Homo sapiens: one gene and its partner. The protein of the gene in region 2 purifies or fractionates together with the protein of the main gene of each other region. This does not show direct contact. Each region holds a gene or a part of one and is shown on either strand. Other genes may lie near its edges.

Region 1 (7,041 bases), on a different chromosome or scaffold from region 2:
GCACTGAGCACAGCATCTCGTAGCATCCTCATGACAACCTGCAAAGCAGGTGTCGTGCCTCTTGCTTCACAGGTAAGGATGCTAGGGCCAAGTGAGGTTGTCCAAGCTTCCACCGTGGAGCAGGGATGGCACTGGGATCTGAGCGAAGGCAGCTCCATGTGAGGCCATCCATGTTAATCCATTCAGTAATCATTTACTGGACGTAACATGTTCTGGGCGCAGGCTTTACTGGGAACATGGGGGTGAACAGGACAGACGTGGTCCCTGTGCTCGAGGACCTGACATTCGAATGTGGAGGGGACAGGTGGATAATTTACAAGGTATTTTAGGGCTCTGACGGCTATAAGCACAGAGACTGGGGTGCGGGGAGGGGGTCCATGCCCAGTCTGGAGGGAGAGATGTCCCAATTGCAGTCTGAAGGACAGTAGATGTCAGGTTGGGGGACAATAGCAGGAGTGTCCCAGGCACAGAGAACTGCGTGAACAAAGAGGAAGAGAATGGCTCTCTGGGGAAAGGGCAAGTTCTGGAAGGTGCCTGTGTGCAGTAAGGCGTGAGGAGGTGAGAGCCGAGGCTGAGAGGTAGGTAGGACCCAGATCCTGGGGGGCTTGGAAGCCATTGACCAGGCTCTGGAGGCAGGTTTCGCTGGGAGGTGTCCACAGCTGCCTCCTCTTCCCTGATCAGAGTCTCCCGGGGCATCTTATCAAAATGCACATTCCTGGGCCTAACTTGGACCTAATCAAACTCTGTGGCTGGGCCCAAGAGTCAGCAATGTTAAACACCCCGAAGGATTCTTGTGCCCACAGCTGTAGATGGTTGGCTTCACTGGAGAGTTTTCGGGCTGCTGTTTTCCTTCAGGATGCCCCCTCTGCCTGCAGCGTAGGTCCAGGCAGGGCTGGTGGCCAGATAGCAGTGGGGAGCTGCTGGGGTTGTAGTGAGGAAGAGGACTGGGAGGATGGGGGATTGATGGGATCAGGTCGGGGGTCAGGGAGGAGCCCCAGGTTCCAGCTTGGGCTCTGAGTGGATGGGGTCGAGGGAACAGGAGCAGAAGTGGGGAGCGGTTTGGGGCAAGGGGACTTGGCTTGAAACTGGATGGATTTGAGATGTCTGGGGTGGGACATCCAAGGGTCTCAGGTTTGGAGCTTGGGGAGATGTCTGGGCAGGAGAGAGAGAGTAGAAAGTCATCAGCAAGTTCAGGGGAATTTGGGGTCGCAGGAGGGAGTGGGTTAAATCCTCAGGGAGGAGGGAGGGGGGCCAATCGGAAGAACCTCAGAGAATGTCCTTGTTAGCGGGGAGCAGCTAGAGGGACAGGAGGGAGGGAAGGAAGGAAGGAGGAAACCTGGAAGATGAGGTCAGCCACGAGAGATAAGGGGTAAGAACATCCGGCAGACTTAGCGTTCCGGAGGTGGCCCTGGAGAGGACATCGTGACCCAGAGTGAAGGATCTGTCGCAGGAAAGAATGGAAGATAAGGACAGAGAGGTTGGTTGGGTGAGGTGTTGACCTCTAGGCCGAGCAGTTTGAACTTTATGCTGTGGCACTGGGCCCCAGCGAAGATTTTTGAGCAAGGCAGTGACATACAACAACAGAATAGTAATGATAGCTCTCTTCTTGATTGAACACTCAGAGTAGGTTGCACCCCGGGCTGCCTGATTACTCATTTAACCTTGAGCAGGACACCACAGGGCTCTTCTTTTGGACAGAGAAGAAACTTTCCCCAGTGCACAGAGCCAGCTAGTGCTAGAGCTGGGACTGGCATCCAAGGCTACCTGTTTGACTCCAAGCCCAGAGCGCTTTGTGGGTACAACATCGTGGGGCTTGAGGGAGGTGGTTTGGGTAGCCCCCTGTGGCTGGCCTGGGATGGAGAGAGGCAGGAGGTGGGGGAGGGTGGACTTGGGTGCAGGCAGGGGAGTGGAGGGGAAGGGGGGATTTGGGCAAAGGCGAAGAGGTGGGTGGGAGCCTTTGTTGGGGGTAGGGAGACTGATGGGCAGGGGCTTCTTTGCCTTGAGTCCCAGTGAAGCTGGAGGTGTCATAGCGGGGACCTAAGATAGGATGGGGGGCTGGGCGTGTCAGCTGTGGGACCCCTGACTGCTTTACTGCTAACCGGCCTGTGGCCCAGAGTCTCACCATCCTGACCTCCTGGTGCTTTCCAGCAGCCATGAGAGAGAGCTGTCATCCATCCTAGTGTGCAGAGGGGGAGACTGAGACTTGGGGAGGCCCTGGGACTTGCTGGGATCATGTGGCTGGTTGGTGGCAGAGCCATACCAGACTTGCCTGCTGGACCCCCGACCCTGTGCCTTTCACACGGCCTCTCAAGGTGCCCTGGGAAGGCGGTCATGCAGAACCAGTGCCTGAGACTGTCTTTCTAAGAGTGGGAGCAGGCCCATTTCCACCTCTCTTTCCCGTGAATTCCCAGCCGTGCCCCCTCCCTGTCCTGCTGCTCCCCTTTCCCCAGAGCATGGTCCTGGGCACTAGAGCTAAGGCACCTGTGAATTCAGAGGGTGGCCCTCAGGTCCTCAGACTGGCTGGGACCTGAGGGTCCCAAGTGTCGAAGGGTTGGAGGCCAGGGCTGTGGGTTGTGCTTGACCTGAGAAGATAAAGAAGCCGCCCTGATATAATTCCAGTCGGGGGAAGCCACGGCCTTGTCAGCTGGCCACATTTCTCCCCATCTCTGAGGGCCGGCCGTCGTCGTCTTTTTTTTTTTTTTTTTTTTTTTTTTTGAGACAGAGTCTTGCTCTGTCACCCAGGCTGGAGTGCAATGGCGCGATCTTCGCTCACTGCAACCTCTGCCTCCTGGGTTCAAGCGGTTCTCCTGCCTCAGCCTCCCAAGTAGCTGGGATTGCAGGTGCCTACCACCACGCTCAGCTAATCTTTGTATTTTTAGTAGAGACAGGGTTTCACCATGTTGGTCAGGCTGGTCTCGAACTCCTGACCTCAGGTTATCCACCTGCCTCAGCCTCCCAAAGTGCTGGGCTGACAGGCGCGAGCCACCCAAGGAGTGAGTGCTCTTTTTCCTTGCAGAGGGTGGAAGCCTTGTGTTCTCAGCCCAGGGTCCTGAACTCTCCTGCTCTGTCTGGGGAAGGGGAGGACCTGGGGGCGTCCCAGCCTCTCTCTCTCGGCCCCACCAGCTGCCACCCTGTTCCCCAGCAGCACCCCCAGGCCCACGTGGACATCTACGAGAAACAGCCTGTGCCCTTTGGCCTGGTGCGCTTTGGTGTGGCGCCTGATCACCCCGAGGTGAAGGTGGGTGTCTCTGGGCCTGGAGGCTGGGGTTTGGAGACTTTGGTCAAGATGAGGAGGGCAGGGAGGCTCCCTGGCTGGATGACAGGACTTCATGCCGTCTGTGCCCATGCCACCCAGCTTCCCTCCTGGGGACACAGAGTGGTGAGGGTGGTGCAGACTTGGTCCCTGGAGCTGCCTTACCCTCTAACCCCTCCCATTCCCGGGGGACCTGGCAGAATGTCATCAACACATTTACCCAGACGGCCCATTCTGGCCGCTGTGCCTTCTGGGGCAACGTGGAGGTGGGCAGGGACGTGACGGTGCCGGAGCTGCAGGAGGCCTACCACGCTGTGGTGCTGGTGAGTGCAGCTAGGCCCTGGCTTGGGGAGGCAGGGGCTGCAGAAGGAGGCCGGTGGCTCGGGGTGGAAGGCAGCAGGGGTGAGGCCAGGATGCAAGCTGCTGAGAAGCTGGAAGGAGGCCGCTGGGAGCCTGGGGGGCTGCCCGGCCTATCAGTGCTGGTGCTGAAGGCTGTGGGTCTCGGGCCTGCCATCTTTCATCAGAGCTACGGGGCAGAGGACCATCGGGCCCTGGAAATTCCTGGTGAGGAGCTGCCAGGTGTGTGCTCCGCCCGGGCCTTCGTGGGCTGGTACAACGGGCTTCCTGAGAACCAGGAGGTGAGTATGGGGAGCACGCCCGCTGCCTCTTCCTCCCCGCCCCTCAGCCCTTGGATGCCAGACCTGGGGGAAGAGGGAGCTGCCATCCAGTGGCGAGCTGTGACATTGTGCTGACTGAGGCGGGAGGCCAGCTGTGGAGGGCCTCGGGGGAGAGCTGGGTCCAGGTGGGGGAGGAGGGACCAGAGTTGTGGACTTTCCCGGTGTGGGGAAGCCCCAGGGCACAGTGGGGACCAGGCATGAGGCACCTGCAGACTGAGATGAACTGAGTGGAGCGAGGCTGGGGGACCCTATCAAGACCTTTCCCCTCCAGCTGGAGCCAGACCTGAGCTGTGACACAGCCGTGATTCTGGGGCAGGGGAACGTGGCTCTGGACGTGGCCCGCATCCTACTGACCCCACCTGAGCACCTGGAGGTGAGTGGTAGGTCAGGGCTGGCGGGGTTGGAGGTGGGGTCACCCTGAGGAGAGAGTGCCCTTGTCTGCAGGGTTCAGGCCTTACCTCTCCAAGCTGGGCTCAGTGCCTCTGTTTCCCCGTGGTGCCCAGGCAGAGGCTCTCTGAAGGGCAGTGCCATGAGCTTCCTCTTCTACCATTTTCCCTTCACTTTCTGCACTCCAGCTAAGTGGCGTTTTTCTCTTACTCTTCAGTAAGCCACATCCCCTGCTTGGATCATCCCCACTCACCTCCCACCAGTTAACAGTTAAAGTTCATCTTTGAGATCTTGGCTCGGTTGTCCCTTCCTCCAGGACTTCCCTGAATTGGTCCACTCCCCCATCGTGCCTCCTCCCATAGACCTGTCTACTTCTGTTTCACCGCATATCATCGCCACAGCAATTTTACACACATTGATGAGTATTTGATGAGTATTTCTCTCCCCAGCAGATCACAAGCTCTGAGAGGGCCTGCTCCTTGTCTCTTTTCCTCACCATTGACCACCCCGCCCCTCCAAGCTCTTTGCATGGGGGTGAGCACATGGTAGAGGCCCACTACATACTTGTTGAATGAAAGTGTGGGCCTGGTGTGCTATTAGTTGGAGCCATTTGCAGAGTTGGCAGCAATGCTCCATCTGGCCACCAGGGGGGAGCAGTGGCGCAATTTTGAGCCGCCAGCCTTCTCCAGGCCCACGGTGGGGACATGACCAAATGGAGAGTCCCCTTTCCTCGGTCAGTGTCTGATGACTCCAAGGCCCTCCTTTTGTGCCAGAGAACGGACATCACGAAGGCAGCCCTGGGTGTACTGAGGCAGAGTCGAGTGAAGACAGTGTGGCTAGTGGGCCGGCGTGGACCCCTGCAAGTGGCCTTCACCATTAAGGTGCTGGGGCCAGAGTGGGAGGAGCCAGGGTTCCAGGTGGAGGGGGCCTCTCCTTAAGGGGTTGGGGTGGGGCAGAGCCCCTGGGAGTAGCTGCTGCCTGGGATGGAAGAAGGGGAGCAGTCAGGGCCCCGGGGGCCCTGTGCCTTTGGGGAGGAGGCGGGTGGTGGTCTCTCCTGCCTGGGCTGGACCCTGGGGTGGGCTCAGGTGGACTGTGTTCTGGGCCTGACCTCCTCCCCCATTCCCTGCTCCCACCTTCAAGGAGCTTCGGGAGATGATTCAGTTACCGGGAGCCCGGCCCATTTTGGATCCTGTGGATTTCTTGGGTCTCCAGGACAAGATCAAGGGTGAGGGGCCCTGGCCTGGCCCCCCAACTACTAGGGAGAGGGTGGCCTAGGTCAGAGAGGGATTGGGGAAGGGCATGCAGGGAGAGGGCCGGGGCCCAGGGACAGCCTGGAGACATTCTACGTTGCTGACAGAGGTCCCCCGCCCGAGGAAGCGGCTGACGGAACTGCTGCTTCGAACGGCCACAGAGAAGCCAGGGCCGGCGGAAGCTGCCCGCCAGGCATCGGCCTCCCGTGCCTGGGGCCTCCGCTTTTTCCGAAGCCCCCAGCAGGTGCTGCCCTCACCAGATGGGCGGCGGGCAGCAGGTGTCCGCCTAGCAGTCACTAGACTGGAGGTGAGTCTCATGTTTCCCAAAGACACCCCCTTCCCAGGCCTCTGCCACCCGCCTGGTGTTGCCCACACTCTCCCCAACAGGGTGTCGATGAGGCCACCCGTGCAGTGCCCACGGGAGACATGGAAGACCTCCCTTGTGGGCTGGTGCTCAGCAGCATTGGGTATAAGAGCCGCCCTGTCGACCCAAGCGTGCCCTTTGACTCCAAGCTTGGGGTCATCCCCAATGTGGAGGGCCGGGTTATGGATGTGCCAGGTGAGAGGGTGTGAGGAGGCTGGGTGCTGAATTATGGTGAGAGGCCGAGAAGCTGGTATCTCCTGGGGCCATGCGTTCATTCATCTAGCAACATGTACTGAGAAGCTTCTGCAGGGCAGGCCCTCTCTAGGACCCAGTGCCGCCCTCCTCTTGGCCCTGAGAGAAGTTCCAGTCTGGCTAGGACATATGTGACATACGTCGGGTCATTAAGTCATTCAACAAACGTTTACTGAGGTCTTTTCTGGGTTAGGCCCTGTGCTTAGTGCTGGGATTGGAGATTAATAAGGCAGCCTGTGTCCTCAGGGAGCTTCCAGTTTTACTAAGTGCCCACATACCTATCTAGTGATTAATTCACTTGGTAAACATTTACCAAGGGCCTACTGAAACTGCAGGGGAGCAAGCCTCAGCTCCTAAGCTTAGGGATCCCCTCATCTACAGGGAAACTGAGGTGTAAGGGGGTCGGCCTGGTAAAAACAGGGAGAGAAGAATCCAGGGCAGTGGACCAGCGGCCACAGCAGGCTCAGCCGACAGTCTGCCAAGAGGCGTGGGGTGTCTGTGTGCGTGCACGTGGGTGTAGATTGTGGGCACAGGATGGCCAGGGTGGTATCCAGCCACCTCCCTCCCTTCCCCTTTTGTTACCCCCTCTCAGGCCTCTACTGCAGCGGCTGGGTGAAGAGAGGACCTACAGGTGTCATAGCCACAACCATGACTGACAGCTTCCTCACCGGCCAGATGCTGCTGCAGGACCTGAAGGCTGGGTTGCTCCCCTCTGGCCCCAGGCCTGGCTACGCAGCCATCCAGGCCCTGCTCAGCAGCCGAGGTCTGGGCCCCGATGCTGAGGTCCTGGGAGGTGGGGTGGGTGGTCCTTCTCTGGGCCTCACTCTTTGGGAGGGGGCTGTTCTGGGAGGGGTGAAG
Region 2 (7,041 bases):
GAAAATACGTCTTTTATAAGTGTGTAAAATCTTGTTCTTTCCAGTATAGCTTATCATATCGTTATCCCTTACTTTTCTTATTGTATGAGATTTCAGCAATTACTAAGAGTTTCTTCCTCTACATTGATCCACTGTGTCACCCAGTGGCACAGTAGCCCACTTTCCTCCCACCTCCTCTCTCACTCCGTTTTCTAGGACAATGGTTCTCAGCCTAGTCTTCATACTGGATTAGCTTGGGGAGCTTTAAAAATGTTGATATGGGTCTCACTATCATAGCTTCTGATTTAACCTTCCAAAAAGCAGAATATGGCATCAGGATTTTGTAAAAGCTCCATAGGTGATACTAATGTGCAGCCAAAGTAAAGAACCTCTGTTCTAGAAAAGTGTTGCAACCTGAATAAAGCCAACCAGGCATACTCCCATGAAATTACACCACAGAGGTTCCAGGGATACCAGCTTGACATTATAAACAGAAAAATTAAATGCATGCTTATCTTTTGACTGCTTTGCTTCAGGAGTTTTGGGGATGGGGACTTGCTAAAGAGAGAAAAACACACCTGCCTTTTTTTCAGTCTTCTTGAAAGACTCATGTGTACAGGTCGTTGACTTCTCCAATTGTTCTGCTAGCATTTCTGTCTTTCAGTCTCATCTTCCTCACTCCTTCCTAACCTTGCTCTAATTACTTCAAGGTTTTAAAAGGCCTTGATTTCTTCATCTTTGAGGTTAAGATAATGTCTGCATGTGACACACACTAAATCTAGCAAAATTCAACAACATACTGTAAAGTTCGAGAAAACCATAACAGGTTGGCAGCCTAAGGTCCTAGCTGCCTAAAATGATTTGAGAGGCTATAATAGAAGTCAAATCTGCTTTTCTGGCTATGAGATTCCAGAAGGTCAACTGCAGTGTTAATCCAGACTTTTTTTATTTGTCTGTACACACTTTAGGGAGTGCTACATGTTTAAAGAAGTCTGAAGTATGACCTCTAGGATTAAACACCCCTCTGCCCCCACCCTCTCCTTCTCTCTCTCTCTTTCTTGGGGTTTTAGACATCATAAAATTAACCAATTCATCTGATATAGGGAATTGATAGTTGATTATAATTATATACCTTATTGACATATCTACCTCCACTTAAGTTACTTTTCCATGACAGAAGCTTGCATTCTTATAGTATGAAAAACAGAATGTCTGTTTTAGTAAGAGGACAAAGGCCTAGGACCTACTCTATTTCTGTGTAATCTATTAGTATTAGTTCTTCACTTAGTTCCGATACACACCCAAGTCTGGGAACCATTGTCTTAGGGCATCAAATAAGTAAGGGTAGTTGCTTCTCTAACGAGAAGGGCCTTAACAGAAGGTGGTGAACTATTCTTTGCTCAGAGGAGTTTAGCTGCCTTTTTCCCTCAATTCCCTCCCTGCCAAGGATATTATAGACAGAGTCTTCTGTTTTTGTGGGCTGCCATCTCAGAAGCTTTGTCTAGTCTTGATATATTGCCTGGTTAGGATTTTAAGAAAATAATAGATGATGCTTTCAAAAATATGGCAGTCTCAATTCCCTCTTTCTTAGGAGTCTCAAACTTTAATATGCAAATGAATCACCTGGAAACCTTGTTAAAATGCAGATTCTGCTTCAGTAAATCTGGGTGGGGCCTGAAATTCTGAAGATCTAATATGCTCTCAGATGATGCTGATGTTGCTACTCTGAGGGGCAAGGTGCTAGCTTTGGTTCTCAACTTTGGCAGCACGTTACAATATAGTAAGAATATTTTTAAAAATAATGATCCCTAGGTCCCACTCCTAGAGATTTTGATTTTTCTGATTTAATTGATAGAGAATATGGCCTGGGCATCAAGAGTTTAAAAAACTCTCCAAGTTGCCAGGTGCGGTGGCTCACGCCTGTAATCCCAGCACTTTGGGGGGCCGAGGTGGGCGGATCACCTGAGGTCAGGAGTTTGAGACCAGCCTGGCCAACATGACAAAACCCTGTCTCTACTAAAAATACAAAAATTAGCTGGGTGTGGTGGCGAGCCTGTAATCCTAGCTACTTGGGAGGCTAAGGTGAGAGAATCGATTGTACCTGGGAGGAGGGGGTTGCAGTGAGTTGAGATCACGCCACTGCCCTCCAGCCAGGGAGACAGAGCAAGACTCCAACTCAAAAAAAACAAACAAACATTCTCCAAGTGACTTTCATGTGCAGCAAAATTTGAAAACCCCTTGTCTTAGTCCACCATCAAAAGTTAACCAATATCACATTTTTTTAAAAATGGCTCTTTTATTCACTTCTCATGCTATAAAATATAGCGCGCTTAGATAGTTCAAAGCAGTGGTTTACAAATCTCTATCCCCACTGACCCTGGTGTGGAGAAGCTTCCATCAGAAGTGGTAGAATAAGAAAAATAAGGATAAGAATTATATAGTAAATTTCATAAAGCTCAAATAATTCATTTCAAGGATTCTTCTTTGAAATTGTCTTTCACACCTTTTTGATGTTAAAATATCCTTTTTAAATTAAATTAAGGTAGTAACATTATACCTGTTTATTTGCTTTTCTCATGCTCTTAATTTGGTAAATAAAGAGTTGCAAATCTTATGTTGATCTCCACATATTTTTGGAAATCTTGCTGGTTCATGAAATTTGAAAATCTGGGAGCCATGGGCATGATAAATCCATTAAAAATTAGAAAAAATCTGATCTTTAAGTCTAGAAAAATATTGTTATAGGAATATAGTTTTTAATCTTTGATTCTCTAATCCCTGGGGCCAAGCAGTCCTTGAATTTTGTAAGCACCAGAGTTTATTGCTTTCTGTGTCAGTTCAGGTCCACTAAGCAGATTTCAAGAAGGAATTAGACTTGCAAGAGATTTATTGAGGGAACCACCAAGAAACATAAAGAGAGAGGCAGCAGGAGTGGGCAAGAGGGCCTTCAGACAGGGAGGCAGGTCTGACCCCTGTGGGAAAGAAGGATGCGTGGGTAGGGAGAGAGCCTCAGCCAGTAGCGCAGCTCTGAGAAAGTCTCAGCCAGGCTGGTGGGGAGCCCCAGAGCACAGACTGTCTATCAGAGAGGTCCCTGTCACGCAGGAATGGCCCAGCGCTATTCTCCCCACTGTGTTCTGTCATCAGGTTGGAACAGCCTGGGGAGGGTGGCCTTGGCAGGAATGCTGCAGGGCATCCGAAGGTGTAGCAGCTAGAGTGTCAGCCAATGGCTCTCCTCACAGCAAGTTCTCTTCTGTAGGGCGATCTGTGTGTGCACTTCCATGGCTGCCACACTGGGACTTGCAATTCCACAGTGAAAATGTATCTTTTTTCTGTTGGATGATGTGAAAGAAAATTAGCCATATGGCAGGTCATTAATGTTTCTCCGTATATCTTGCTTTTGGTCTTGTCCCTTTTAACCAATGGCCATTTATTAATTATAACTCATCATTATGTCTGCTGGGCCCACAATTATCTCCATAAAAAATGTAAAATCGCTGGTCACTGGATAAGTCGTGGGAGGTAGAACATCTGGCTTATGTAATGAATACATGTTTAATATTACCTTTTAAACCTGTAATGTTGGTAGGTTTTCATGTAGTAAAAATTCTATTTATTAGTATTTCTTGTTATTATTTCTGATCTTATATTAAATAAGGCATTATTAAGCATAATTATCTTAGATTATCTTTTTCTTGGTTTGCCACAGTGTATTGTCTAGCATGGCAGATGCAGTATTGGCTCGAGTGTATAAACAATCAGATTTGGACACCCTGGCTAAAGAAGCATCCATCCCAATTATCAATGGGCTGTCAGATTTGTACCATCCTATCCAGATCCTGGCTGATTACCTCACGCTCCAGGTTGGTTTATTTATTTGTCTTACAAAAGAGCAAAATCAAATAATTCCTGACTTGCTTTAAGTGAAACAGTTTACTTAAATCATGGTATTGGTGTTTTATTTTCAAATACCAGCTTGACAAAGAATTACAGCTTGTGTGTGCATTTTCTGGGGAAAACAGGACATTGTTAAAAACAGACTCTAAGATCGCTCTGCACTCAACCCTATTCCCAAACCCTTTTAGCCCATATCTCATCTTATGTTCTGTCAATCCCTTTGATTTTTCGGTGCCATATTTAACACAATGAATGAATAGAGAACACTGGAGCATACAAAATGGACAAGCCATATGTGATTCTATAGACATCAGGTCTGTGGCTTGGGAGTGAAGACTGGTGGAGTGTGCTTTGAATATTCAAAAAGGTTAGTTACTAAGTCACTCTGGAAGAGGGGGACACTTTCTATCATTTTAATAAACTGGTTATTTAAAGTAGGGTTAAGAATATGCAGAATTTATAGAATTGGGGCTCAAATTTAGCCATTCTAGTCCTCCCAAATTAGGAACTTGAATAACTTTGAAAGATTCCTCTTGTTTGGTTTGCCACAGCCAATCTACATTATATTGCCCCTGGAAATCCTAACAGCCATGGTTTCTATGTCTATGGATAACTCTGAGGAGACAAGATAAACTGGATAGGCCCATCTTCTTCCACATTTGAATAAACTACACACATTTAAATGTGAGGTTAAGCTCAAAATAAAACACTTTGGACATGAGGATGAGATCCATGCAGAGAAGATGATATAATTATGTCAGATACCAAAGTGGCTGTCTGTGGGTGTGGCTTTACATATACACCAGATAATTTAATGCTTCCCCCTGGGGCTTTATCATTACTAGATTATAAATTCATTGAGGGAAAATGAGCTGTCCTATTCATCATAATGTCCCCTGCAGGACCTTGTGCAATGCCTTCATATAGGAGACACTTAAAGTAGGAGCTGAATGAATAAATAGCAGCTTGTTAAGAGCATGGAATCTAAATCAGATGGATCTGGAATTAAATTCTAGCTTAGCCAACTAGTAGTTCTGTGATCTCCAAATTGCTTAGCCTTTCTCTTTTTTAATCTTTTTAAATATATAAAATATATGAAACCTACAGACACTTCAAGAAAATAAAACAAACATTCATGTGTTCACACAGTTTTGTCAATTCTTAACATGATGTTGATACTTTATAATTCTTTGCTGTTTTTCAATAAAACATTAAAGATAGAGTTGAAGCCCACCATGTAACTCTGCCTAATCTTATTTTCTTCCTTTCCACAAATATGTTATTATCCTGATGTTAGTATCTTTACACATATCTATAGCCATAAACAACCAACAGTATTATTATTATTATTTTTGTTATTATTATTATTTGAGACAGAGTCTCACTCTGTCACCCAGACTGGAGTGCAGTGGCATGATCTCAACTCACTGCAACCTCCGCCTCCCGGGTTCAAGCGATTCTTGTGCCTCAGCCTCCGGAGTAGCTGGGATTACAAGTGTGTGCCACGCCTGGCTAATTTTTGTGTTTTTAGTAGACATGGGGTTTCATCATGTTGACCAGGCTGGTCTCGAACTTCTGACCTCAGGTGATCCGCCCACCTTGGTCTCCCAAAGTGCTGGGATTACAGGAATGAGCCACTGCACCTGGCCAACTAACAGTATTATTGAGCATCTTTGTCAACTTCGTATAATGGGAACATGCTCTGAGCCACTATGCTACACTGTTCCAGGTATTCTGTATTTCCCCTTTCTCATACCAAAGAATTTCAGCTCCATAAAAGCAGTGATTTTTGTCTCCTTTGTTTATTGTATCTCCAGGGCCAAGGACAGTGTCTCAGTGTCTGGATGTTAATGGTGCTCATTTGTATCCAATGAGTGAATACAACTAAGACTCAGATTTGAAATGTATGAAACTCTTAGTCTCTGTTCAAGTTCATATGGTGTCTTGGTTTAAGATATTAAGACATTTTACCACGTTTTTGGGATTGTACATTCATATTATTGAGTTGCTCTGTGTAATGCAAAAAAATTGGGAATTCATTCCTTCTAACAAGGCACTAATACTGAGATTAAGACTATTTATTTTAACCTTAGTAATTGCTACACATAAGCGAATTTACGCCTGGATTTCATCTCCTTCATCCCGTGCCTTTTAGGAACACTATAGCTCTCTGAAAGGTCTTACCCTCAGCTGGATCGGGGATGGGAACAATATCCTGCACTCCATCATGATGAGCGCAGCGAAATTCGGAATGCACCTTCAGGCAGCTACTCCAAAGGTAGGGAAACTTTTTGCCTTGAAACTAACCCCTCTCTTAAATCATCCTCAGATGCAATTACCCAGTGACAAAAAAAGCTCTCTTCCATTTAAGTATAGCACAGGTGAGGCCACAGAATTTAGGTTACGTTACCAGCCCTACTATTAAATAGCTATCTGGCCTCTTGAGAGTCCAATTTCCCATCTCTACAATAAGAGATAGTCTTGGCTGATGCCTTTTATTCTATGAGTTAGTGTTAAAAGCATGTCTGAATTATTCCTTTGAATACCCTGCTGTAGGCCATTATGATGACTGGCATTGTGCATTACCACCACAAAGGCTGAAGAAAGCAATAAAATCCAGGCAGCATAGAATTCTCAACCCATGGGAATGATACTGTCATTTTTCTAACACTGCAATTTGGTAGAAAAATGTGAATCCAATGTGAGGATCACAGTGATGGCATCTACACCAGCTTAGTATTTCAAAACTCAACTCTGGGGACCTTTTGGCTTAGAAAATTTGAGCCCCACATGGCTATGAAAATGACCCCTGCATACTTCCTACCTTGCTGCTCTCTCACAGCATGTATGGAATACATGACTTCTTTCATAGGCCCAATGTAAACCTTTTGATACACAAGAAACTGGTAATAATTGTTGCCTCTGAGGAGAGGAACTGGGAGGTTTGAGGATAGAGGTAGGAGGGACACTTTATTTTGACCATACAGTCATGTGTGGCTTCATAACAGGGATATGTTCTGAGAAATGGGTCCTTCGATGACTTTGTTGTTGTGGGAACATCATACCGTGTACTTACACAAACGTAGATGGTATATATTTTTATTTATATATATTCTTTCACATGGAAAAATAAATGTTCCAGCACCATTACTAAATATCAACCTTAGG

Evidence for each region. The genes of interacting proteins can lie anywhere in the genome.
Region 1: the proteins of OTC (region 2) and FDXR purify together in Homo sapiens (affinity purification with mass spectrometry; 2 studies listed by BioGRID and IntAct, with this or other methods). This does not show direct contact.

The regions. Positions count from the first base shown.
Region 1 is NC_000017.11:74,862,981-74,870,021, reverse strand, and holds part of FDXR (NADPH:adrenodoxin oxidoreductase, mitochondrial isoform 1 precursor), read left to right. Parts: intron 1-1,268; exon of another isoform or gene 1,269-1,456; coding exon of another isoform or gene 1,457-1,477; intron 1,478-3,016; coding exon of another isoform or gene 3,017-3,145; coding exon 3,146-3,238; intron 3,239-3,453; coding exon 3,454-3,576; intron 3,577-3,777; coding exon 3,778-3,891; intron 3,892-4,201; coding exon 4,202-4,303; intron 4,304-5,072; coding exon of another isoform or gene 5,073-5,090; coding exon 5,091-5,198; intron 5,199-5,457; coding exon 5,458-5,542; intron 5,543-5,674; coding exon 5,675-5,874; intron 5,875-5,954; coding exon 5,955-6,126; intron 6,127-6,775; coding exon 6,776-6,946; intron 6,947-7,041. UniProt on the Homo sapiens protein: Serves as the first electron transfer protein in all the mitochondrial P450 systems including cholesterol side chain cleavage in all steroidogenic tissues, steroid 11-beta hydroxylation in the adrenal cortex, 25-OH-vitamin D3-24 hydroxylation in the kidney, and sterol C-27 hydroxylation in the liver.
Region 2 is NC_000023.11:38,397,590-38,404,630, forward strand, and holds part of OTC (ornithine transcarbamylase, mitochondrial precursor), read left to right. Parts: intron 1-3,685; coding exon 3,686-3,839; intron 3,840-6,028; coding exon 6,029-6,151; intron 6,152-7,041. UniProt on the Homo sapiens protein: Catalyzes the second step of the urea cycle, the condensation of carbamoyl phosphate with L-ornithine to form L-citrulline. The urea cycle ensures the detoxification of ammonia by converting it to urea for excretion.